5 separate regions of the Homo sapiens genome follow, and all the other regions are linked to region 2. The links come from fine-mapping of genetic effects on gene expression. A gene starts in region 2. Each other region holds a variant in brackets. All regions are shown on one strand. Distances are from middle to middle. Region 1 overlaps NRDC (nardilysin convertase). Region 2 holds the start of NRDC (nardilysin convertase). Region 3 overlaps NRDC (nardilysin convertase). Region 4 overlaps NRDC (nardilysin convertase). Region 5 overlaps NRDC (nardilysin convertase).

The links. PIP is the estimated chance that this variant, and not a neighbour inherited with it, causes the effect.
Region 1: its variant is fine-mapped to the expression of NRDC in whole blood (TOPMed, PIP above 0.99). The same link has a PIP of 0.9 or more in lung, tibial artery and tibial nerve.
Region 3: its variant is fine-mapped to the expression of NRDC in T cells (TOPMed, PIP 0.98).
Region 4: its variant is fine-mapped to the expression of NRDC in whole blood (INTERVAL, PIP above 0.99).
Region 5: its variant is fine-mapped to the expression of NRDC in whole blood (TOPMed, PIP above 0.99).

The regions. Positions count from the first base shown.
Region 1 is chr1:51,824,226-51,829,225 of GRCh38, forward strand. It overlaps NRDC (nardilysin convertase), which reads right to left. Exons shown (of 31, transcript NM_001101662.2): 5 at 3,571-3,644; 6 at 1,062-1,157. Among named protein-coding and RNA genes, the nearest start is that of MIR761, 9.7 kb to the right of the region's middle. The variant C/T (reference allele first, on the strand shown) is at 2,679.
Region 2 is chr1:51,875,783-51,880,988 of GRCh38, forward strand. NRDC (nardilysin convertase) reads right to left here and starts at 2,945. Exons shown (of 31, transcript NM_001101662.2): 1 at 2,493-2,945. The coding sequence starts at 2,833. RefSeq lists enhancers at 735-1,266, 2,935-3,229, 3,113-3,292, 3,683-4,236 and silencers at 2,983-3,032, 4,990-5,187.
Region 3 is chr1:51,851,181-51,856,180 of GRCh38, forward strand. All of the region lies in intron 1 of NRDC (nardilysin convertase), which reads right to left. Among named protein-coding and RNA genes, the nearest start is that of MIR761, 17 kb to the left of the region's middle. The variant T/A (reference allele first, on the strand shown) is at 2,046.
Region 4 is chr1:51,841,107-51,846,106 of GRCh38, forward strand. The region is part of intron 1 of NRDC (nardilysin convertase); the gene reads right to left. Among named protein-coding and RNA genes, the nearest start is that of MIR761, 7.2 kb to the left of the region's middle. The variant CA/C (reference allele first, on the strand shown) is at 1,957.
Region 5 is chr1:51,795,713-51,800,712 of GRCh38, forward strand. It overlaps NRDC (nardilysin convertase), which reads right to left. Exons shown (of 31, transcript NM_001101662.2): 21 at 4,844-4,971; 22 at 2,537-2,699. Among named protein-coding and RNA genes, the nearest start is that of MIR761, 38 kb to the right of the region's middle. The variant A/G (reference allele first, on the strand shown) is at 2,680.

The sequences.
Region 1 (5,000 bases), 52 kb before region 2:
AGCGATTCTCCTGCCTCAGCATCCCAAGTAGCTGGGACTACAGGCATGAGCCACCACACCCAGCTAATTTTTGTATTTTCAGTAGAGACGGGGTTTCACCATCTTGGCCAGGCTGGTCTCAAACTCCTGACCTCATGATCCACCCGCCTCGGCCTCCCAAAGTGCTGGGATTACAGGCGTGAGCCACCGCGCCCGGCTATCTAATTCTTAAAAATAAAACACATGAAGCAAGAATGCCCTATAAAATGTATATAACTGTACAGAAATATACAGGGAAACAAAACACCCTTTAAAGAATAATTCAGATCATCTCATCCTAAATTTTACTCTATAGTCAACAGGATTAATATGAGGCTGTAACTAAATCCTCCCACTAAGAAAATGCCATTATGAAAAACAGACACCAGTTAAACAGTTTACTAGATGAACAAAATTAAGTCGCAGTTCAAAAACTCTTACAGAAACTATTGCTAACTCTGTTGACAAATGGAAATGTCAGGCTGAGGTAGAGCACAGACTTTATAATCAGATAAACAGATGTTCAAATCTCACATCCACCACTTACTATCTGTGTGATTTAAACAAATGAGATAACTTGACTGAAATTTAAAATAGAGATGGGGTCTCACTATGTTGCCAAGGCTGGTTTTGAACTGGTCTCAAGTGATTCTCCCACCTCAGCCTCCCAAAGCATTGGGATTACAGGTGTGAACCACCACGCCTGGCCTAAACCTGTTTATCTTTAAATGGAGATGATAATGGTACCTATCTCTGAACATTGTGATAATGATCAAATGAAATAATTCATGTAGTGTTAGCACAGTATCTGGCACTTAAAAAGCATTCACAAAATGTTAGGTGTTACTCTTGCTATATTCACTGTTAGAGAACCAAATAGAGGCATATTTAACAACTTCGCGTTTGAAAGGCTAACTAGCTATCCTAAAAGGTAAAAGGTACCTAGGGACTCTAGCTTTATAATTTTCAATTCTTTATCAACTTTTCTTATTCTAAATCTTAACTAGAAAATATGAAATAAGATGATGTATTTAGTATCTTACCCCAAAAAAATTTTCCCATAGGATGTCCAGGTCTAGCAAGGCTTCCAAACAACATTTCCTTTCTGTTTGCATCAGAAGGCCTTGCAAGTTGATATTCTGTCAATTTTAAATAAACACATAATAAAACAAAATTCAGTATCTCCTTTATTATATGGAAATTCAAACTTACAGAACAGAAAGCAAGGAATTAACAAAATTAACTTCATGAATCACGTGTTATAAGACTGAAGTGGGAAACTCAATGATCCAGGCCTGGCTCTATGACTTAATATGACCTGTAATTTTGGGTAAATCAATTCAGCTTACCAGAGTCTTACTCTTATTTTTCAAATGAAACACAAGGTAGTTAATAATCTGAAAGTTTCAGCTCTAGGATGCTATGTACAAGATTTTACTGATGAAAATGCTAATAAAATATTAATCCTTTTATCTGGGAATTTGGTCATATATATTGTTTAAATTTCTTCCAAAACCAACTATGTTGGTAATAAAGTATGATGGCTAAGAACAATCCACTTTGAAGTCAGAAATACCTTTAGCTACCGCTAAAGACTGAATGTTTGTGTCCCCCCACCCAAAATTTCTATGTTGAAACTTAATCCCCAATGTGATGGTATTTGGAGGTAGGGGCCAATGAGAAATGATTAGGTAATGAGGGCAGAGCCCTCATGAATGGATTAGTCCCTTGTAAAAGAGACCTCAGAGTGCTCCCTTGCCCCTTCTGCTGTATGAGGACAAAGAGTGAAGGCAGTTTTCTATGAACCAGAGAGCAGGCTGTCACCAGACACCAAATCTGCCAGTTCTTTGATCTTGGACTTCTCAGCCTCCAAAACTGTAAGAAACAATTCTGTGGTTTATAAGCCACCCGGTCTGTGGGATTCCATTATGGCAGCCCAAATGGACTAAAAACCGCTAGAACTGCAGTTCTGACACTAAGCTCAACAACCTTGAGGAAGTTATCTAACGTACCTGATTCCATTCCTCCAAAACTGTAAGAAAATAAATGTTTTATTTTAAGCCACCATGTTTCTGCAATAACAGGTAATATAGCAGACATGTAAACATATCTACGAAAAGTGATTTAAGACCCCTTGCAACTGATAAAAATAGAGTATAAATATCTGAACACTTAGAGACCATATTTGGAAAGGAAACAAACATTAAAAATGAAGAAGTAAGTAAATAAAAATAGAGACTGCACTTTGACACATAATTAAGATTTAAAAAGGCATTGGACATGCCTTTCATCTCAATCACTAAGACATACTATGCAGGCAATTATATATGTTTATGTGAGTATAAACCATCATTAAAATAAAAAGTCAATTATTAAAAATAATTTATCAGCCGGGCGCAGTGGCTCACACCTGTAATCCCAGCACTCTGGGAGGCCGAAGCAGGCAGATCATGAACAAAAGCACAACAGAATTTTTACTTTAGTTCAGCATAAACCAAAACTCCATACTGTGTGTGTATATACATATATATTTCTTTCAGCATAATTTTTCAAAGCATAATAAAATATATTCTGGCTTAAAATTGTAAAATCTAATTAAAGGTCTGCTTGTTTAAACACTGGTGTCAACCCACTCTAGAAACTGTATAAAGAAAAACATA[C/T]TAGAAAGCATTTAAGACACAGATAACAGTTCTTGAGTCTCAAAATATGAAAAGTGCTTTTAGTTATCCTTAGTTGTTTTGTTTTTTCATCCATTCAACAGGTATTTAACTGGGTTTAAGGTAAAACAGACACTGTGGTAGGCAAGTAAAAAAATAAAGAAAATAAATCCTTGATTTCCAAGGAGCTACTACAGCTAGGAGGAGCTTAACCATTCCATCCTTTTTTACAAATAAACTGAATGCCACAGCTAGACACTTCTGTAAGTTAAACAGGGGTCTGTTGACTTCCAGATAGATCACTCTAGCCATCTGTAGTTTACTCAGCCTAGTAAATGCTTTACATCATTATTAGAACTAGACACTGCATCAAACCAAGGAGGGAAATACTACAAAAAGTGGAACAAATACAGAGACTTGCAGTGGCTATAAGCCAAGCCTAACCTATATGAACTGGAAGTCCCCTCAAGTCTAGTATTAAATGCTTCTAATACTTAAATAAATCAAGCAGGGATAATATACAATGGTGATATTTATTGGTACTATGTAATTAAGGAATATTTATAGCACAGATCTATAATGAAGCCTCACCCTATATAAGCACATTCTTTTCCTTTATAGTCTTCAATCTTTGAATCTCAAAAGATTAGCCCCTATGGTAAAACCTTCGAAAAACAAAGGATGAAAAAACTAAAATCCACCATCCTTTTCATTTACTTCAAATCTACACTGAATTAGATGTTTAATGACTTCAGGAACAAACATAACACATATTTCAATTTAGTCCTTTAAAATATAAAGATAAAATGGTCTAGAGATAAAGAAGGATAAATGTAATAAGTAACTGGTTTCATGAAGGAAAAAACTGTAGTTACACATAAAGTACTCCTCTTACCACTATCAACAGCTTCAACTTCACGGTCAATTGCATCTCTGATCATTAGTGGGTGGATGAAGAACTGCGCCCATCTGAACAAAAAACAAAACTGGCATTTCCGTTTTTGTTCACTTTCATCAATCAACATCTATTATTTTAATTAAGAAACTTACTAAGTTGGAGATTTAATTCACAATCCTAAGTATATAAAATCTAAATAATCTGCATTTCTATATTTTAAACTAATATCTACATGTTACTTTAACTTTTTCATTGTGAAATATATTTAATAACAATCATACAGAAAAGTTAACAAAACATGAACATATAAACTACACCTGAGTGGCCCACCCAGGTGAAGAAACAGACCATAGTCAACACTCTAGAAGCACCCAGCTCCTACCCTTACCTCAAGAAATATCCTGAATGTATAGCAGTAATTTCTCTCCTTTTCTTTATAGTTTTATTACCTATATACCTATTTCTAACCCAATGTTTATCAACCCTTTTTATTTCCATTTTCAACCCTTAGGAGCCTTTTCGGAAATGTTCTCCTATTCATTCCTTTGTAAAATTGTAATATCACAGATAGTCTATTTATGTAATGTTATGTATATCCATGTTTTTATAGAGTATATAAAGCTTACTTTTTTAGTTCAATGCAAGTTTACAGATGACTAAAAACGTTTCAGTTAAAAGTTAAATTAGAATTTTAAAGACTTGGTATTTAAGTTAATCTTATAATTTCATCTGCTTTTTAAATTAATTTTTAATTATATAAACTGTGATGTATCAAATTACATATACAAATTACCACTTATATAAATACATAATAGCAATGCAATTAAATTGTTAAAAATTATTCAAAGATTGGTGTATTGGTGTTTTTCCAGCAAAATAGAATGATTTAAAAAATTAATTTCCTAAAATGTTTAGTAAACTTTTTTTTTTTTTTTTTGGATATAGTGTCTCACTCTATCACTCAGGCTAGAATGCAGTGGCACAATCACTGCTCACTGCGGCCTCAAACTGCCGGGTTCAAGCAATCCTCCTGCCTCAACCTCCGAAGTAGCTGAGACTAGAGGTGTGCACTACCATTTTTTTTTAAATCTTTAAATTTTTTATAGAGACAGGGTCTCCCTATATTGCTCAGGCTTCTTTAAAAAACTTTTAACTTTTGCTTGCAATAAGGTAACTTTTAACTTAACTACCTGCTAGATATATTGGGGCATTTTTTTTCTTTTCAGTACTTGGTATGATTAATGATGGGTTGGATAATTTCTGTTGACTTAAATAATGAAACTAATTTTATTTAATTCTGTCACCCAGACTGGAGTGTGTAGTGGCACATCACGGCTCACTGGAGCCTTGAACTCCCCAGGCTCAGGTGATCCTCCCACCTCAGCATCCCAAGTAGCTGAGGCTACAGGCATGTACCATCATGCCCT
Region 2 (5,206 bases):
CGCTCAAGTGATCCTCCCAACACGGCCCCCCAAGTGCTGGGATTACAGGCATGAGCCACCACAACAGTCTCTAATTTTTTTTTTTATGTGTCTGTGTCCCTCTCTACTATTGTAAGCTCCCTAAAGGCAGGTACTGGCTCAATCATTTTTGTATATTCACCCAGACTAACATGTTATTTATTACATTATATTTGACCAAGTTTCAGAAAATATTTAATCTAGCTTGGTGCCTAGCACACAGTAGGACTTAACAGGTATTTATCAAACAAATTTACCAAAAATGAGGTCAGTAAATGAAATAACACATCTAAAACAGTTACAACAGTAGCTGAAACACAGTGTAGATTCCATAAATATTAGTTATTATATAACTTTATATAGGCTGGAAAAAACCCTGAAACCATTATTGAACATTTGATCTGGAAGGCAAAAACTAAGCACCTTTTATCAAGTTTTCAACTTGCTCATTTATACATTGCCAATACAGGTTGAGTATCCTTTATCCGAAACACTCGGGACCAAAAGTATTTCAAATTTTGGATTTTTTTGGATTTTGGAATATTTGCGTATACGTAATGAGGTATCTTGGGGATGGGATGCAGTATAAATACAAAATTCATTTATGGTTCATATATACCTTATACACATAACCTGAAGATAATTTTATACAATATTTTTAATAATTTTGTGCATGAAACAAAGTTTGTGTACATGAACCAACCATCAAAAAGCAAAGGTGCCAAGTGTGGAATTTTTCACTTGTGGTGTCATGTTGGCGCTCATAAAGTTTTGGATTTCCGAGCATTCTGGATTTTTGGATTAGGGATACTCAACCTGTACAATCACATCTTTGATGAGAAAGAAAATTTAGCTCATTTATAAAGATCTCTTGACTCTGGCAGCCTGGAGAAAATATATCTAGACTTGAAGTGAAAGGAGAAATTAGGTTGGTCCTGAACTTGGAGCTAAGTGTCATCTGTCAAAGAGGTGTGGTGGGAAGTGGAAAAGATTATCTATAAGGTTGTTTCTTGCGCTAACGCTGTAGGGGCTTATAACAAATTTAGAACTAGAATCCTTCAGCTTTCAATTCACATAAGCAAGAAATTTGTAAAAAATCGGCAAACGGGCTGGGCGGGGTGGCTCACGCCTGTAACCCCAGCACTTTGGGAGAAGAGGCGGGCGGATCACAAGGTCAAGAGATCGAAACCATCCTGGCCAATATGGTGAAACCCCGTCTCCACTAAAAATACAAAAAATTAGCCGGGCGTGGTGGCGAGCACCTGTAGTCCCAGCTACTGGGGAGGCTGAGGCAGGAGAATCGCTTGAACCCGGGAGGCGGAGGTTGCAGTGAGCCAAGATCGCGCCACTGCACTCCAGCCTGGTGACACAGCAAGACTCCGTTTCAAAAAAAAAAAGGAAATCAGCAAATGATACACTGAATTTGGTGTCAGATAGTAGGGGTCATCATACCAGCTCTGTTATTATTTAGCTGTGTGATTCAGAGCAAGAAGCAAACTCTTTGGGTCTCAATTTCCTCAACCTGTTCAACGAAGTTATTGGACAATATGAACTCTATTTAAAATACATCAAAGTCCAGGCCTGGCACAGTGGCTCACGCCTGTAATCCCAGTACTTTGGGAGGCCAAGACAGGAGGATTCCCTAAGCCCAGGAGTTTGAAATTAGCCTGGGCAACATCGCAAGACCCAGACTCTTATTAAAACACACACGCACACACACACACGCAAGATACATCATAGTCATGATACTCCATGAAATAAGCTACCTCTGAAGGAAAATACTCAGGTGGGGACTGAATCACCAATTATTAGAAATGTTTAGAGAACTCCTGTACAAACCAAAAGTAGAGAATTTCAAGGTTAGAAGAAACCTTACAACTCACCCAACTGAGACCTAAGCCCTCTCTAATATATTCCTGGACGAGGTCGCCCAACCGTTTTGGTAATGGAGAACTACCCATGGAAACAAGTCACTTCAACTTAGGCCAAATATGATGCAAAGTTACTTTACTGAAGCCACACCATCCTCTGGTAACTTTCGTCCACTAGTTTCACCTATCACTTAAGTGTCCCTCAAATATTTTGGATAGTGATAATATGCCCCTTAAATATCCTGTCCTCCAAATTAAAGTATCCAACTCCGTCAACCTTTCCTGGTAACATAATACCAAGACTCCCTCACCATTCAGGCTGCGTTCCTCAAAGAAACCTTCATTCTTGCTTTAGCGACTGTATTCAAATGACTCGAAAAGCTTCTCCCATTCTGACGTCTTACAACCCAAGATCTCCCACTTGCCCAGCTGACACCACAGGGAAGCCTCTAATCACGCTTGCCACCTCCACCCAAGGAAGCATTTGGGGTGGAAAGTGTGCCCTGTTGCTCCATTGGGAGACATGGAGACAAGAAGTGACGGCGGCACCGACAGAGAAGCCGGCACACTGTTCGCCTCCCCATTGCAAGCCTCCTCCCTCACCGGTATTGCTTGGGGTCGCTGGGAGACTTGACGATCTCAGGGTCCCCAGCATTACTGAGAGACCCCCTCCGTCCCTCTTCCTCAGATTCATCCGCTCCTAGACGGGCAACCCGGCTGTTCTCGCCCAGATCCTGTCCATTGGGCTGCAGGTCAGGGCAGCTGCAGGTAGACTTCGCCTTGTTCCTTCCAGGCATGGCCAGAATAGGAAAGGGTCTGGCAGCAGCAGAGTCTTCGCACCGACCCCGCGTTTCGATTCCCCAGAGCGCCGCGAGCTCCCGCCCGGCCTCACACAACTTCCTCCGGGTGGCACAGACTGCAGCAACAGTGACTCTCCTCAGCATTCACCACCAAGCTGGAGCGATGGACATCCCGCTTCCCAGGACCCACCTCCTCCGCGTTCTAGAGGCGGTGGCGGCCGGCCCTGGTGCTGCCGCAGCCGCGGGGAACAGGCCTGAACCCCTCCCCCAACCCAGTCTCCCTCTCGCCGACTTCCCTCGTCCCTCCGCCCTCCCGGCCGCCGATGACGCTACTGATTTCAGCCAATCATGAGGCAAGAAAGTAGTCACGCTCACGTAAGCAACCAATCAGAACAGGAAAGGAGAGGCACCAACGTGACCCGGACTGATTCTCGGAACAGCCAGCGAACATTTCGAAACCCAAAGTGGGCGGGGCGAGGGAGAAGAAGCGGAGAGAGTGGCGCGGAGGACGACGGGAGAAGGGCCCCCGGCGCGTTTATGACGTACGAGTGTGTTTTGTGGAAACCACTGAGTAGTGCTCCGCGTGTCAAAGAAAAATATTCCCCTAATGAGAAAACTGAGAAACGAGTGCAGAGAATTAATTCCAAAGTTTTAAATTTTCCCATTCGTGTCATAGTTTGGGTACCCTACTCCTCAGACCCGGGGCGAGCCTTCGGCTGTGACTCAGCACATAAAAAACCAGAACGCCGGAAGTATTTTCCTACACCCGCCGGATGGACGCTGCTCCCGAGCGCCGCAAATACTAATTGGCTCTTCTCTACCCTACAGTCGGCCCGACAGTGGTGGGGTTTCATCCTCAAGCCCTAAGAAAGTGCTAAAAAGACCAGTCTGGATGTGCTAACTCTTCTGTGTGAAAACGTTTTTTAGCTCCTCCAGCCTCCTGTTAAATTCGGCCAATTTTTATCGAGCAGCTGCAGCGTCTGCTGCCTTCAAGTCTCCTTTCCCAGTTTTTCCCGCTAGCAGTGGTCTTTGGTTAGCAATGTAAAATGTGACGGAAATACAAACATAAATGAAAGCTAAAAAGCAGCTGAAATTAGTAAGATGCACTATACTGACACCATGGGGTAAGAGATCATAGCTCATACATACGAATGAGCGGGGAAAGACGTGAAGCAGGGAGATGTGTTGATAGTTACTGTATCTTCAAGGTTTTCGAGGCCTCTTCTGAGTTCCAAATGCAAGGAATACAACCATGAACAAAACAAAACTTGCCTTAGGCTGGGCGTGATAGTGATAGCTCACACCTATAATCCTAGTACTTTGGGAGGCCGAAGCGGGAGGATTGCTTTGAGCCTGGGAATTTGGTACCAGCCTGGACAACATGGTGAGACCCCCGTCTGTACAAAATTCTTTTTTAAAATTAGCCAGGCTTGGTGATGCGTGCATGTGGTCCCAGCTACTCAGGAGGCTGAGGCAGGAGGAACGCTTGAGTCCAGGAGGTCGAGGCTGCAGTGAGCCGTGATTGCAACACTGCACTCCAGCCTGGTTGACACAGTGAGACCCTGTCTAAACAACGACAACAAAAATTTAAAGCCTTGCCTTGGGGGAGCTTGCATCCTAATGGGAAGGAACTGTAAAATATGTAAACTAAAGTAAATCAGGCTTTTAAATAATTCAAGTTAGCTTTCTTCAGAAGTCTTATTGAGGACTGCCACCTGGGAGAGTCAGAGAGTTTTTTTTTTAGACTGCTCCAAAGCAGTGTTTCAGCCCGCAGCTTCTATACAGGTGGTGGCCGCTCTGCATGTGCTTGGAAGTTAAATCAAATGTGCTCAGAAAGGCTGGGCCTGTAATCCCAGTGATTAAGGAGGCTGAGGCAGAAGGATTGCTTGAGGCCAGGCATTTACAACCAGCCTGTGTAACATATCAAGACTCTGTCTCCACACACACATAAAAAAGCAAGGCGTGGTAGAACATCCCTGTAGTCCTAGCTACAGGAGAGGCAGAGTTAAAAGGATTGCTGGGACTCCTGAGTTTGAGGTTACAGTGAACTATGATTGTGCCTCTGCACTCTAGCCTGGTGACAGAGCAAGACCTTGTCTCTAATAAAAAAGAAAAAATGTACTCAGGAGTTACACTAGAGCAAAATCTCATGAAGGTTTAGGTGGAAGAGTACACATGTTTATAGATTATGGAGGCATAGTCATTAATCCTGTCAGAAATGTACAGGAAGAGGCAAGGTCGAGCATCATTGGATTTATCTTTTCTAAAAATGCAGTGATTCAGGCAAGAGACATGGGAACTTGTGCTCTATCCTGCATATTTTCAGGGTATTCTGGAGGGCTGTGCGCAGTCACTGAGGCTGTGAAATTCTGCTGGCAAGAGAGTTTGTGAAATTCTGCTGGTAAACAGAATGAGCAGACATGGCTTCTTATGTTTGCTACTTTGTCTCACATATACAAAAAACAATAAATGCAATGAAGACAAATTGTATAGGATAGGAAGATAAGGAGTTAGGGA
Region 3 (5,000 bases), 25 kb before region 2:
TTTTGGTAAGTGGGGGGTTGATGTGTGATAGCCCCATAGTATTTTTCCTTTCAGCAGGAAATCCAGCCTTGCTTCAGCAAGGTATTGGGCTCTACTTCATCAGAATGCACTTGGTGGGAGATATCCCAGAGCTGAAGACTGAAACCTTGAAAAATCACAATTTGATTGTGATTTACTTGCTTGAAAATCTATTTAATACTTAACACCTGGCCAAGGCATTAAAGGTTTGTCACCTAGGTTTTGCGACAAACCTTTAATGCCTTGTCCAGGGTTTTGTTTCATTTGAGAAACACAAGTTCTATTTCCTTTGTAGCCCATTAGGGTGTATTCTGCAGAATTGGGCCATTTTTAGATTTGGGCCCAAGGAAAAAAAAAAAATGATTTTTTTTTAATTGCAGTAGTGCTTGGCCACAGTATTTTTTAAGACTCCAGAAAAAAGCCTGAAAAGGGGAACCTTTAAACTGGACCCCTAAATTTTAAAATAATCTCAGGCATCTCTCTAAACAATTGCTTTTACAAAAAAAAGTTATTTTCTAAACAAATTTTACAAAGGACACTTAATAGTGTCATGACTAGCCTTGAGAATTCACTTGACTAAATTAAAGAACAAATATCTCACCTAAAACAAGGTTAAAATCCTTTGCAAGCTCAAAACTGCCTGCTTTAGATCCCCTCCAGGAACAGCAGTGGTAAAGCACTGAGGCTGCCTGGGTTGAATTCCCAGCCAAGGAACACATCATTTTTTGGTTTAATATTTGTGTGACTTTTGCCATTTATCGTTCCTTTTTCCTTCTATGGGCAGCTTTTGATTTCCTGTCCTCCATCTGTGAGGGGGGCAGCCTACAGGTTTTTTGGTATGCTTTTTGGTACACGTTGTGTGTGTGAATGGTCAGCTGAGAAACTGAGGCTCTAGAGAATATGGCCAAACAGAAATGTGGTCTGTACTCCATTTATGGCTGACGAAATTTTCCTCTCTTTAAGCTGTCTTTGGGGCAGCTCTGAATCTTGTGAAAACTGCTTTCCACCTCTTTCGAGACCTCATGTGTCCTTGTTGAAGTCATAACCCTGGCTAACGCTTCTTAGTTTCATGGGGGAGAATATCTTTGGGGTGAAAAGAGTTCAAAAGCCAGAAATATCAACTGTTTGTCCCAGCTAAAAATCTGATAGTAAGAGATTTGAAAGGATATTTTTTTAAGAACTCTATACTCAAAAGTCTAATTAAAACTAATATTTAGGCCATATTTGTGTATGTATATATAACTATATATATAAAATTATATAACTATAACTATATATACATTATATATAACATGTATATGAGGCCTTAAAACTATATTTATATAGTTTTAAACTATAGTTTATATATATAGTTTTAATAGTTTTATATATTTATAGTTTTTTTAATAGTTTTATATATAGTTTTTTATAGTTTTTTATGTGAGCCTCCATGCCCGGCCACTTTTCTTATTTTCTCTGTCTACTACTGGCTTAGCAAATTCTGTGTGCTGCCCTGGAGTCTTAATTACTTCAGGTGATCACACTGAACTATAAATATAATTGCCTTTTTGTTATGCTTCCTTGTGGACTTTCATCCTCCCAAATTAAAAGGGCAATTTTATAATTAGAATTTCTGAGACGTTGACAAAGACAGGTAACCTATAGATATATCATCTGACCCAGCTAATAGAACAATGATACTCAAGTTCCTTCAATCATCATAATCTGAGGGCCCCTTTCAGAATATTACATAAAAGAATTCCTGGCCAGGCACGGTGGCTCATGCCTATAATCCCAGCACTTTGGGAGGCCGAGGCGGGTAGATCATGGTGTCAGGAGTTCGAGACCAGCCTGACCAACATGGTGAAACCCTGTCTCTACTAAAAATACAAAAAAATTAGCCAGATGTGGTGGCGTGTGCCTGTAATCTCAGCTACTCGGAAGGCTGAGGCAGGAGAATCGCTTGAACCTGGGAGGCGGAGGTTGCAGTGAGCCAAGACATGGCACTCCAGCCTGGGTGACAGAGGGAGACTGTCTCCAAAAAAAAA[T/A]ATATATATATATATTATATAAAAGAATTCCTTTATTTTGGAAGTCCCTTCACTTGAAGCTTCAAACAAATTTGCCAGAAATAATGAGACTCTGCCTCTATATAAAAGGCTTACTTGATTTTGCCTCTTGAGAGGAGCAAGAGCCCTGCTCCCTCCTTAGAAGTCTGCTCTCTAAACATGTCAGAAATCCCGTATCTTAGCTGCAAGTAAATTAACTCATTAAAAGTAAACAAGTCCACATACTCACTTTGGGATCCACAAATCTATTCTTGCCCAGGTACTAAAAAGATGGATGCGGGTTATTTCTTTGGATGGACTTTGTTACCTTGGTGGGGAGTGGCATCCTATGAGCACATGATTAGAAATCTCTCTCTTTAGGAATTCTTGCTAAGGAAACTTCAGCAGCAATAGCTGTCTAGCAGAAAAGAATTAATTCATTGGCTCAGGTGTCTTAGATAATAGGATAGCCTTAGATTACATCTTAGCCAAGCAGGGAGGAGTGTGTATGGTTGCAAATCCCACATGCAATACTTATATAAATGAATCTGCTGAGGTAGAAACTCATCTAAAATAAATTAGAGAACAAGTCACTTGGTTACAACAGATCTCCCTGACTGTCCCTAAGGACTGGTTTTCTTCTTTCTTTTCTTGGATTCCTCATGGAATAAAATCCATGTTTTCTGGATTGCTAAAGTTATGCATATCAATCTTGCTAATTTTTCTTGTGCTTTATATCATAACCAAATGTGTGTTAAAATGTAATAAAGCAGTGACTAATACAAATAATGACAGTTCAGCACCATGGTGCCATGCCTGGGACTCATGGATACCTTGAATTCCGTGCTAGGAACTTACTATCCTCAGCCAGGGGCGGTGGCTCACACCTGTAATCCCAGCACTTTGGGAGGCCGAGGCGGGTGGATCACGAGGTCAGGAGTTTGAGACCAGCCTGGCTAATATGAGGAAACTCTGTCTCTACTAAAAATACAAAAAATAGCCAGGCGTAGAGGTGCACACCTGTAGTCCCAGCTACTCAGGAGGCTGAGGCAGAAGAATCGCTTGAACCCAGGAGGCAGAGGTTACAGTGAGCCGAGATCATGCCACTGCACTCCAGCCTGGGCGACAGAGCAAGATGCCATCTCAAAAAAATAAAGAAAAGAAACTTAATATCCTCATATCCTAGTCCTCAATCTTTGCCCCAATTCAACAGGAAGTAGGCAGAGCAGTCTGCACCCCAGTACCCCACAAGATTGATGGGTGACAAAAGATGGGGAATTGAGATGACGCAGGGACCCCAAGCATAGAAAAAAGGAAAATCTTCAGTTATTTCAAAGGAAACTTCAGGCACCTAGCTAGCCCTGAAAAATAAATGTGCAACTTGATAAACAAGCAGGTAACAGTAACAACAGCCAAGCTGGCCCAGCATGGTGGCTGACACCTGTAATCCCAACTCTTTGGGAGGCCAAGGTGGGAGGATCACTTGAGGCCAGGAGTTCAAGACCAGTCTGGGCAACATAGCGAGACCCCATCTCTAACAACAACAAAAATAGCCAAGGAAGTTAAGAGTCACAAGAATGTTTGCTTCCCTATAAAAACTAAAGATAATACCTTAACATGTCTCCAGTTGTTTTTCAGAAACCTGTGCCCACACCAAAAGGATCTGCCAGCACAGCAACCTCATATAGAGAGGAACTGGGGACTGAACTCTGACTCCCCTTCTTTGTTCTAAATTTCTTTCTGAGGGGCCTGGAGAAGGTTATACCCATGAGCCAGTGCTAACATTCTTTTCTGCTGATCTCAAATTTTTAGAAAAAGCTTTGCCTCCTTAACCAACTGCAAATCAGAAAATCTTCTACTGTACCTATGACCTATACACCACTGCTTCAAGATATCCCAACCTTTTAGGCCAAAATCAGTGTGTAACCCTCCATGTATGGTTTATGATTTTGTCTGTAACTTCTGCTATCCAGAAATTTACCACTGCCTTTAAAAACCCTTACCTGCAAATCATCGGGGAGGTCAGGATTTAAGCATTAGCTACCTGGTCCTCTTTGCGTAGCATCCTGAAAATAAATGCCTTCCTTTCTACTGCTGCAAAACCTCAGTGTGGTTATGTCCTTATTGTGCCAGGCGAGCAGACCCAAGTTCAGTTCTATAACAGAGCTAAAAGGAAAGAATGTTTTTATTTAAGAAAAAAAAATTGGTATAATATTTGGGTGAAGAAAATTTGTACCAAACAAGATAAAAAATCCAAGCCCTTATAAAGAAAAAAAAAATGAAAAGAGTTCACTGTATACTAATTTTAAGTTTTTATAAAACAATATCATAAACAAAATCAAACAGCAAATTGCATACTGGGAGGAAAAACTAACAACATGTAAGAGTTCCTTCAAATCATTAAGAGAAAAAAACCCTATTAAAAAATAAGCTTAAAAATATGTGCTATACAGCCTGGCCAACATGGCAAAACCCTGTCTCTACAAAAAATACAAAAAAAAGTAGCTAGGTATGGTGACGCACCCCTGTAATCCCAGCTACTCAGGTGTCTGAGGCTGGAGGATCACTTGAGCCAGGGAGGAAGAGGTTGCAGTGAGCCAAGATTGCGCCATGGCACTCCAGCATGGGTGACAGATGGAGACTCTGTGTCAAAAAAAAATAATAATGATAATAATAATATATACTACACACATTACAAGAACACAAGATGTCAAATAAAATGATGCGCAATCTCACTAGAAATAAAAGACAATCAACTTAATGAAATATTTTTCATCCAACAAATTAACTAAACAAAAAATAAAAACAATTGCTATCCAGTGCTGATAAGTGGACAGATTATTCTCACACATTTCTGATGAATCTCAAATGGTATCACATTCTTGTAGGGAAATACAGCCATTTTTATTTTTAATGGAAACTCTGAATACTTTTCATTCAGTAATTTCATTTCTAGGT
Region 4 (5,000 bases), 35 kb before region 2:
TGCTTTTTTTGAGACAGAGTTTGCTTTACTGCCCAGGCTGATTTTAAACTCTTGGGCTCAAGCAGCTCACCTCAGCCTCCTGAGTGGCTGGGATTACAGGCATGTGCCACCATCTCAAGCTCCTGATTCTTATCTGCAAAACTACTGTGCCAGTTTGATGACTAGGTATCTATTACAGACCACTCCCATTTACACTAATTTTTTTTTTCCTTTTTCTTTGAGACAAGGTCTCACTCTGTTGTGTAGGCTAGAGTGCAGTGGCACGATCTCAGCTCACTGCAGCCTCGACCACCTGGGCTCAGGCAATCCTCCCACCTCAGTCTCCAGAGTAGCTGGGATCACAGGCACAGGCCACCATACCTGGCTAATTTTTGTATTTTTTTAGAGACAGGGTTTTGCCATGTTACCCAAGCTGGTCTTGAACTCCTGGGCTCAAGCAATCCACCCATCTTGGCCCCACAAAGTGCTGGGACTACAGGCATAAGCCATCGCATTCAGCCCCATTTATACTAATTTTTTCATGTATTTATTCAATAAACATTTATTTAGCACCCTTTACATATCAGATATCATGCTGCATTAAGGATAAAAAGGATAAAACAAAATTCCTCATCATCAGGCATTCACTGTCTAATAATGAGATGAGCCAGTATAATACAGAATGACAGAGATAAATACAGAATGTAAGAAACAAGCAGTCAGGGAAGGCGTCTAAGACAAGGTACACTTAAAAAGTCAAGCAAAAACTAAGAATAACATGCAAAGAAAGACAAGGAAGAGAACCTTTGGCCTAAGATGGAAGACTGAACACTGGGATTTATCTACTTTCCATATAAAATAATCACATTTGGAGCTCAGGAGTTCAAGACCAGCAGGCAACGTAGCGAAACCTCATTTCTACAAAAAATACAAAAAATTAGCCTGGCATGGTGGCATGCGCCTGTAGTCCCATCTACTTAGGAGGCTGAGGTTGGGAGGATGATTTGAGCCCAGGAGGTCCAGGCTGCAGCGAGCCCAGATCGGGCCACTTTACTCCAGTCTGGGTGAAAAATGAGACCCTGTCCCAAAAATTAATAAATAAATAATAAAAAATAATCACATTTAAGTGATAGAAAAAATGTTTGGTTTTTTTTTTTTTGGTTTTTGAAAATAAAATCATGACAGACAGAAAACAGGAAAGGACACTGTTAGCAGATTACAAATTTTTAGAAATCATTAGAAGACATGCAAATTTGATCAGATTAATGGAGAAAACCACAGACCTATAAACATGTAGTAAGATATTGGTTCTTCCCAGGAAACCCTAGAAAAAGTCTAAGCTTCAGATCAATAAATAAGAGCAAAGAGAGCCTCAGGGCAATAAGCTCAATTATGTAAACTGGAAGCAATCCAAGTCTACTGACAGCAGAATAAAAAAACTGTGGTATATTCATATAATGAAAATTTTCTTCACAGTGGAATATTGTAACACAGGGAAATACAGAATTCAGCAACAAACTACGACAGTGGTTAATCTTAAAAACATGAGTGAAAAAAGCAAATCACAAAAAAATACTATATGAGTACCATTCACATAATGCCAAAAAACAAGCAAAAGTAAACAGTATATTATTTAGGTATACATATATATCCAACTTTTTTTAAGCAAAAGAATGATAAACACAAAATGCAAAACAGGGCAGGGCACAGTGGCTTGCGCCTATAATCCCCGCACTTTGGGAAGCCGAGGCAGGTAGATTGCTGGAGTCCAGGAGTTCAAGATCAGCCTGGGTAACATGGCAAAACCCCATCTCTACAAAAAAAAATACAAAAATTAGCTAGGCATGGTGTATCTATGGTCCCAGCTACTCCAGAGGCTGAGGTGGGAGGATGGCTTAAGCCCGGGACATGGAAGTTGCCGTGAGCCACGTTCATGCCACTGCACTCCAGCCTGGGCAACAGAGCAAAAACCTGTCT[CA/C]AAAAAAAAAAAAAAAAAAAAAGCTAACTACTTGTTGGGGTGGGAGGGCAGGGCAACATGTAAGGATACAGAGGGATTAAAATGTTCAAGACCACCAGAAGTAGACAGCAATATGCCACCTCTAAATATGCCTCCTTGGCATAAGGATTGTTGAACTGAAGGCAATTAAAAAGCAGATGCAGGAAAGCTCTCTGCTATCCACTTGCCTAAAAGCAAGACATAAATTTACTCCAAAGACAAAAAAGGTTAAAAAAAAAAAAAAAAAACCCAACCCCTGTTTACCGTGGAAGAACACAAGTTAACCACCAAATACAACTTTACACCTGTATTGGTCTGGATACGACACCAAAGGAATCCACATTAACAAGTTTACTAATTATGCTTTGCCTGCCATTATTTGCCTTTCTACAAGTTGCTGCCCCTACAGACTCAAAGTCCTTTTTCTTTGTCTTGACACTTTGCTAAACATTTGTTGAAGATACTATATAAGCAGGAATTAAAAGCCAACTCATTCTGAGTATCTCCCATGTATTTATGAATTATACATGTTAACAAACTTATATTTGTTTTTCTTTTGTTACAGGGGACCATTCCAAATAATAACTTATGAGGGTTGAAAAAAATTATTTTCCTCCCTTACACAACCCAACAGCAGGACAAGTTAAAATCCAAGAGCTATTTTCCAAGAATATGAACAATCTGTCCAGAAATAAATTCTAAGATGAATCTCAGAGATGCAGAATCATAGAGAAGCAGTTTGAGGTAGTCCCAATATCTGTATCAGATACCAACTCAGGTTGGGGGAAAAAAAAAAAAAGCCAGGGAAGGGGAACTTTACTTGGTCTTTGTAAGGTGCATTTTTTTTCCAGCTTAAATTTTTCATAAACAGAACAGAAAAAATCTAAAAATCTACTATCAAAATAATCCTATGCATTCTACTTTCAAAATAAATCACAATTCTGATAACTTCTCATCAACTCTACAGCTATTTCCTTAGAGCATGTTGTCATCGTGTCTAATCTCCTCCTAACTCTCTGTTTCCATTCTAACCTCAATACCCTGGCTATACTCGCCTCCACCACCACCATCCCCCGACGCCCCAACACACCTCAAGTCAATTCTCAGCAGGCTAAGTAAAGCAAATGAGCCCTGCTATGGGCTGAAATGTGTTCCCCCCAAAATCCTATGTTGAATCCTTAAACCCTACTACCTCAGGATGTGATTGTATTTAGAGACAGGGCCTTTAAAGAGGTAATTAAGCTAAACATCAGGCCTCTAAAGTAGGTCTGAATCCAATCTGAATGGTATCCTTATAAAATGAAGAAATTTGGAAACACGATGGTACACCAGATATGTGTGCACACAGAGAAAAGACCATGTGAGGAGATACCAAGGAGAAGGCCAACCGCAAGCCAGAAAGGCCTCAGAAGAAACCGAATAGGGCCGAAGAGGACGGATCATGAGGTCAGGATATCAAGACCATCCTGGCCAACATGGTGAAACCCCGTCTCTACTAAAAATACAAAAAAATTAGCCAGGCATGGCGGCGCGTGCCTGTAGTCTGTCTCAGCTACTCGGGAGGCTGAGGCAGAATTGCTTGAACCCGGGAGGCGAAGGCTGCAGTGAGCCGAGATGGCGCCACTGCACTCCAGCCTGGGCGACAGAGCAAGACTCAGGAAGAAAGGAATTCCGGAAGGGAGGGACGGAGGGAGGGGGGAGGGGGGAAGGGGAGGAGGGGGGAGGGAGGGAGGAAAGAAGGAAGGAAGGAAGGAAGGAAGGAAGGAAGGAAGGAAGGAAGGAAGGAAGGAAGGAAGGAAGGAAGGAAACCAAATAGGCTGACAGCTTGATCTTGAACTTCTAGACCCCAGAGCTGTTATTTAAGCTACTCTGTCTTTGATATTTTGTTATGGCAGCCTTAGCAAATTAATACAAGGCCATTTCCCTTTTCAAAATTCATCATTGGCTTCCCATCATACTTAAAATCCAAAATCCTTACCATGGCCTATACAATGCTCAACATAATCTCGTTCTCATTTACCTCTCCAACCTTCTTTCCCACTACTCTTCCTTCATTCTGTTTGCTCTAAACAAATGACTTTATTGTTGTTTCCTAAACACTGCCAACAGACTCTCAGTCCAGGGCCTTCGTGCTTGCTGTTCTGTTGGCCTTAGGGGCCCTTGACCCAGATAAAGTATGTGCCCGACTGCTCTACCTCTTTCAAGTCTTTCATGAAATGTCTCCTTTTGGCCCGGCCGCAGTGGCTCACACCCGTAATCCCAGCACTTCGGAAGGCCAAGGCGGGCAGATCACTTGAGGTCGGGAGTTAAAGACCAGCCTGGCCAACAATGGCGAAAACCCGACTCTATTAAGAATACAAATATTAGCTTGTGTGGTGGCATACGCCTGTAGTCCCAGCTACTCAGGAAGCTGAAGCAGGAGAATCACTCGAACCCGGGAGGCGGAGGTTGCAGTGAGCCAGGATTGCACCACAGCACTCCAGCCTGGGCGACAGAGCGAGACTCCGTCACAAAAAAAAGAAAAGAAAAGAAAAGAAATGTCCCGTTTTCAGAAATGCCTTCTCTGACCACACTACCTAAAATAGCTCTTTCGCCCATTTCTATTCTCTTTTATCCTACTTTAACCTTCTTCGCACCATTTATCATTACTTGATTTTATTTTCTGCCTGCACCATTAGAATGTTATCTCTGAGGACAGAGCTTTTCTTTCCTTCACAGCTATATCCTGGGACAACACCAGGCATATATATACCAAACATTTAATAAACAGATATTGAATAAACAAAAGAATGTTAACGCCTGGAGGGGACCTGATACATAGTAGGTACTTAATATCTACTTAATGAAACAAAATGAGACAAAATCTAACACCTAATTTAAAAAAAAAAGAAAGCTATGTGTACAACATGTATCCATTAAATGCATATAAAGTTACAACAACAGAACTAAAAGTACACAAATCAAATGGAATGGTAATGTATATATCTGGGGAAAGGAGAAAAACTAGAGATACAAAGATATTTTA
Region 5 (5,000 bases), 80 kb before region 2:
AACTAAATACGTATCAGAACAAACTCCTCATATGCTCCCACTCTTACTACTGTTCCTGTTCCACCAACCCACTGCTTCAAGAAAGAAATCTGGGCATCATTCTAGACTGCCTTCTCTCTCACTCCCACTGAGTGAATTTCCATCATCTTCTATTTCTTAAGCACTTCTTTAAACAAACAAAAAAAAACACCAGGGTCTTGCTTTATTGCCCAGGCTGGAGGGCAGTGGCATGACCTCAGCTCACTGCAGCCTCCACTTCCTGGGCTCAAGCAATCCTCCCACCTCAGCCCCCAAGTAGCTGAGATTACAGGTGTGCATTGCTACACCCAGCTAATTTTTTTTAATTTTTTTGGAAGTGGTGTCTCACTATGTTGCCCAGGCTGGTCTCAAACTACTGAGCTCAAGCGATTCTGCCACCTTAGCCTCCCAAAGTACTGGGATGACAGGCATAAGCCACCATGTCCAGCCTTAAGCAATTATTTTTCATTTATTTGGCCTAACATCAGGCTTCAATATTTTTCACTCCCAACTCTTTTTTTTTTTTGAGACAGACTCTCACTCTGTCACCCAGGCTGGAGTGCAGTGGCGTGATCTCGGCTCACTGCAACCTCTGCCTCCCAGGCTCAAGTGATTCTTCTGCCTCAGCCTCCCAAGAAGCTGGGATTACAAGATGCCCACCACCACACCTGGCTAAGTTTTGCATTTTTAATAGAGACAGGTTTTCACCATGTTGGCCAGGCTGGTCTTGAATCCCTGGCCTCAAGCAATCTGCCTGCCTCAGCCTCCCAAAGTGCTGGGATTACAGGCGTGGGCCGCCTTGCACAGCCTTCACTCCAGCTTTTTATTTTGATAAAATAATATAAAGTTTATAATCTCAACTTTTTTTTTTTTTAGACGAGGAGTCTCACTCTGTCGCCCAGGCTGGAGTGCAGTGGCACAGTCTCAGTTTAGTGCAACCTCCGCCTCCCGGATTCAAGCAATTCTCCTGCCTCAGCCTCCCGAGTAGCTGGAACTACAGGCATGTGCCACCAAGCCCGGCTAATTTTTGTATTTTTAGCAGAGACGGGGTTTCACCATGTTGGCCAGGTTGGTCTCGATCTCTTGACCTTGTGATCCGCCCACCTCGGCCTCCCAAAGTGCTGGGATTACAGGCGTGAGCCACCGCGCCTGGCCAATCTCAACCATTTTTAAAAGTGTGCAGTTCAGGGCCAGGCACGGTGGCTCACACCTGTAATCCCAGCACTTTGGGAGGCCGAGGTGGGCAGATCACGAGGTCAGGAGATCGAGACCATCCTGGCCAACACGGTGAAATCCCATCTCTGCTAAAAATACAAAAAATTAGCTGGGTGAGGTGGCAGGTGCCTGTAGTCCCAGCTACTTGGGAGGCTGAGGCAGGAGAATGGCGTGAACCGAAGAGGTGGAGGTTGCAGTTGGGCCAAGATCACGCCACTGGACTCCAGCCTGGGTGACAGAGCGAGACTCTGTCTCAGAAAAAAAAGGGGTACAGTTCAATAATGTTAACTATATTCACACTGTTGTGCAGTAGATTAGATTTTCAGAACTTTTTCATCTTGCAAAACCAAAATTCTGTACCCATAAAATAACTTGTCTCTTCCCTCTTCTCCCCAACTACTGGAAACCACCATTATATTTTCTGCTTCTATGAATTTGACTACTTTAGATAACTCCTATGAGTGGAATCATATCTGTACTTTAAAACAGCTTCATAACTTGTCTCTCTGGATATTTCTTAACCACAAATCTTCTTAAATCCTTTAATGGTTCTCCATTTCTACAGGATAAAGCCCAGCACCTTAGCTTCACAAACAGGCTTGACATACTAGTTCTGGCTATGTATGTATGTATCTATGTATGTATCCGTATGTATGCACACACATCCCTCACCATTTCCTTCCTCCCATTTTAGCCTCTATACTAAACTGTTCATGGTTTCCACATACAATCTTCAACAAAGGTAACAAACAGTATAGATACGCCAAACCCATTTCACTCAAAATCCTAGTCTATTACCAGCAATCTATTTTTCTCTCTCTCTTTCTTTATTTCTTTTCTTTTGAGACAGGGTCTTACTCTGTTGCCCAGGCTGGAATACTGTGGTGCAATCATAGCATGCTGTAGCCCCAAACTCCTGGGCTCAAATGATCCTTCCACCTCAGCCTCCCAAGTAGCGGAGACTATAGGCATGTGCCACCATGCCTGGCTAATTTTTTATTTTTTGTAGGGATGAGTTCTCACTGTGTTGCCTGGACTGGTCTCGAAATCCTGACCTTAAGTAATGCTTCTGCCTTGGCCTCCCAAAATGCTGAAATTACAGGCGTGAGCCATCATTCCCAGCCCAGCAGTCTTCATCTTAAGAAGAAAGCTGCCCAGCATCAGAGGGGTCAGGTTCCCTTCTAAACAGAATATGATAATGCTGGCCTGCCAAAACTACAGCTTCCCCTTTAGGAAAGAACTATGGCAATTCCAGAGTTCACAACTGCATTCAGACCTGGCCTACAGAGCATCTCACACTCACTGTGCTTGTGACATTCCCTTGTACCAGGCCCTCCACAAAGAGCTGGGATTTGAATTCTTTGACGAAGCTCAGCAGAGACTCAAGGGAAAGGCCGTCCATCAAAGCCTGGTACTTGTCAATCATAGACCAACGGGCATATTCCA[A/G]GATTAAAAGCCGTACATCTCTGTACAGAGGGCAGAAAAAAAACACTCAAAGTTTTGTTATTAGAAATGAATCTTCAGAATAAAGAAATGTTTGGTCAAAGTTCTATAAAGGATGTGTTTCTAAAGAGAGACCATTTTTATCACAATGTAAGATGGGAAAACAGTATCAGATTAACCAAAAAAGTACTGAAAACCACATACACAAACTTTAAACAAATTTACTTAGCAGTACAAAAATGCACTTACCTGTCTCAGTTGCAGGGTAAAATATTTCACATAAAAGTAAAGCTGCCAGATGAGTCAAGTTTACTTAGTTGTACACTGATTTAAAATTATTACTATTTTGGTTTGAAATCTCACTAATATTTCATTAATTACTAGAAGCCATCATTTGGGATATCTATTACTGCAGTGACAATATAATACAGGTAACGGCTCTGGTCCAGAATCAGATTAACTTCATCCCCCATTTCCACAACCCCACCCCAAATAAGCTGTTTGAATTTGACAAATCTACTAACATCTATGATTCAATTTCTTCATTTGTAAAACAGGGGAAGTATTCGTGAGAGGTAACCGTTTTGGATAGAATTGAATTAATGAATTTATATAACAGTTCTTAGATCTAGCACAAAAATCTTCAACAAACAGGTTTATTATTATTCTTTTATAAAGTAAATTTCAGGAGTTGAATTTTAATAAAATAGAAGGTTGTGTTTAATAATGTATTTTTATAAATAAATAAAGTAGTATTCATGAGTTATTGGCAGGGCTATTCACCGTATCAATGGTTGCAGATAACTCTCCTTTTTTTATTATTATACTTTAAATTCTAGGGTACATGTGCACAATGTGCAGGTTTGTTACATAGGTATACATGTACCATGTTAGTTTTGCTGCACCCATCAATTCGTCATTTACATTAGGTATTTCTCCTAACACTATCCCTCCCCCAGCACCCCCACCCCCCAACAGGCCCTGGTGTGTGATGTTCCCTCCCTGTGTCCATGTCCTTTCTAACATATATCTAGTTATTAGTTTTTGTAACTTTCTGTGATCAGAATATCAGTTATTACATGACTGATTCCTAACCCCTTCTTTCTAATTCTGGAAACTGATGGGTTCATTACAGCTGTGTCAAAAGCAGAACCTTTACGCTGTTCACTATTTATAGATGCCCAGGGCAAAACTGTCAAGTAGGGGCTAGCCAGTCATGTGCACAAAGGGGTAGGTCTGTTCAGAGGACTTTTCTCTCCCTCCCACAAAGGCTCTACCTGCTAATAGAGGGTACCTCAGAAGGATACTTTTTTCTGATTCACGCAAAAGTATCCTACAGGCTACAATTAGCCCTGGACTAAAGTAGTAAGAACAGGCTCTGAATGAAGGCCCAAGGGGGTTGCCTGTGAGCAGAGGGTTTAAGTATTAGCATACAGACTGTGTAGCTGCCTTTCTGCTCTCTTCTGGAAGCTTGGCTGAATTCTGGATAGTTAAGATTGCTAGATAAGTGACATGTTTAGCAATTTAACTCAGCTACTAATCACCAACATACTAAAATCACCAGTAAATACTTCTTCTGGTTTGTTTTTTGTTTGTTTTTCTATGAGACAGGGTCTATCTCTGTCATGCAGGTTGGTGTGCGGTGGCATGATCATGGTTCACTGCAGCCTCAACCTCCTGGGCTCAAGCAATCCTCCCACCTCAGTCTGCCAAGTAGCTGGGACTACAGGCATGTGCCACCACACCCAGCTAATTTTTTAATTTTTTGTAGAGATGAAGTCTTGCTATATTGCCCAGGCTAGTCTTGAACTTCTAGGCTTGTGATCCTCCCACCTCAGCTTCTCAAAGTGCTGGGATTACAGATATAAGCTACCATGCCCGGCCTAAAACTAGCACTTCTTTAACATTCAGGTATAATGATTGGTGAAAACACCCTTCCTTACTTTTAGTCTCTACAGTAAGCTGCTTTCAGTCCCATTCACAGCTAGCTACATAAGCTGGGTTTAGAAATACCGTAACGCTATGCACGGGTCTCCTAAACTAGAGCACGATTCAAACACGGATGAAAATTAGCACTGCAACTATAGCCTTAACCCCCACACCCACCCACTAGGGAGAGTAATACTTTCAGGTCCTCAAAATATAAGCTCATCTCATTTATACCCACTTGGCCAAAGTCTCGGGCTTGATGAGGATGTTAAAGTAGGTCTTCTTCAACTGCTCAGTTATCATTGTAAAGACAGCTGGTGTGGAATTGAACTCAGCTAAGTAGTCAATAATGAGCTGAAACAGTAGCTAAAAGAAAAAGAAGGAAGCATTTTAAG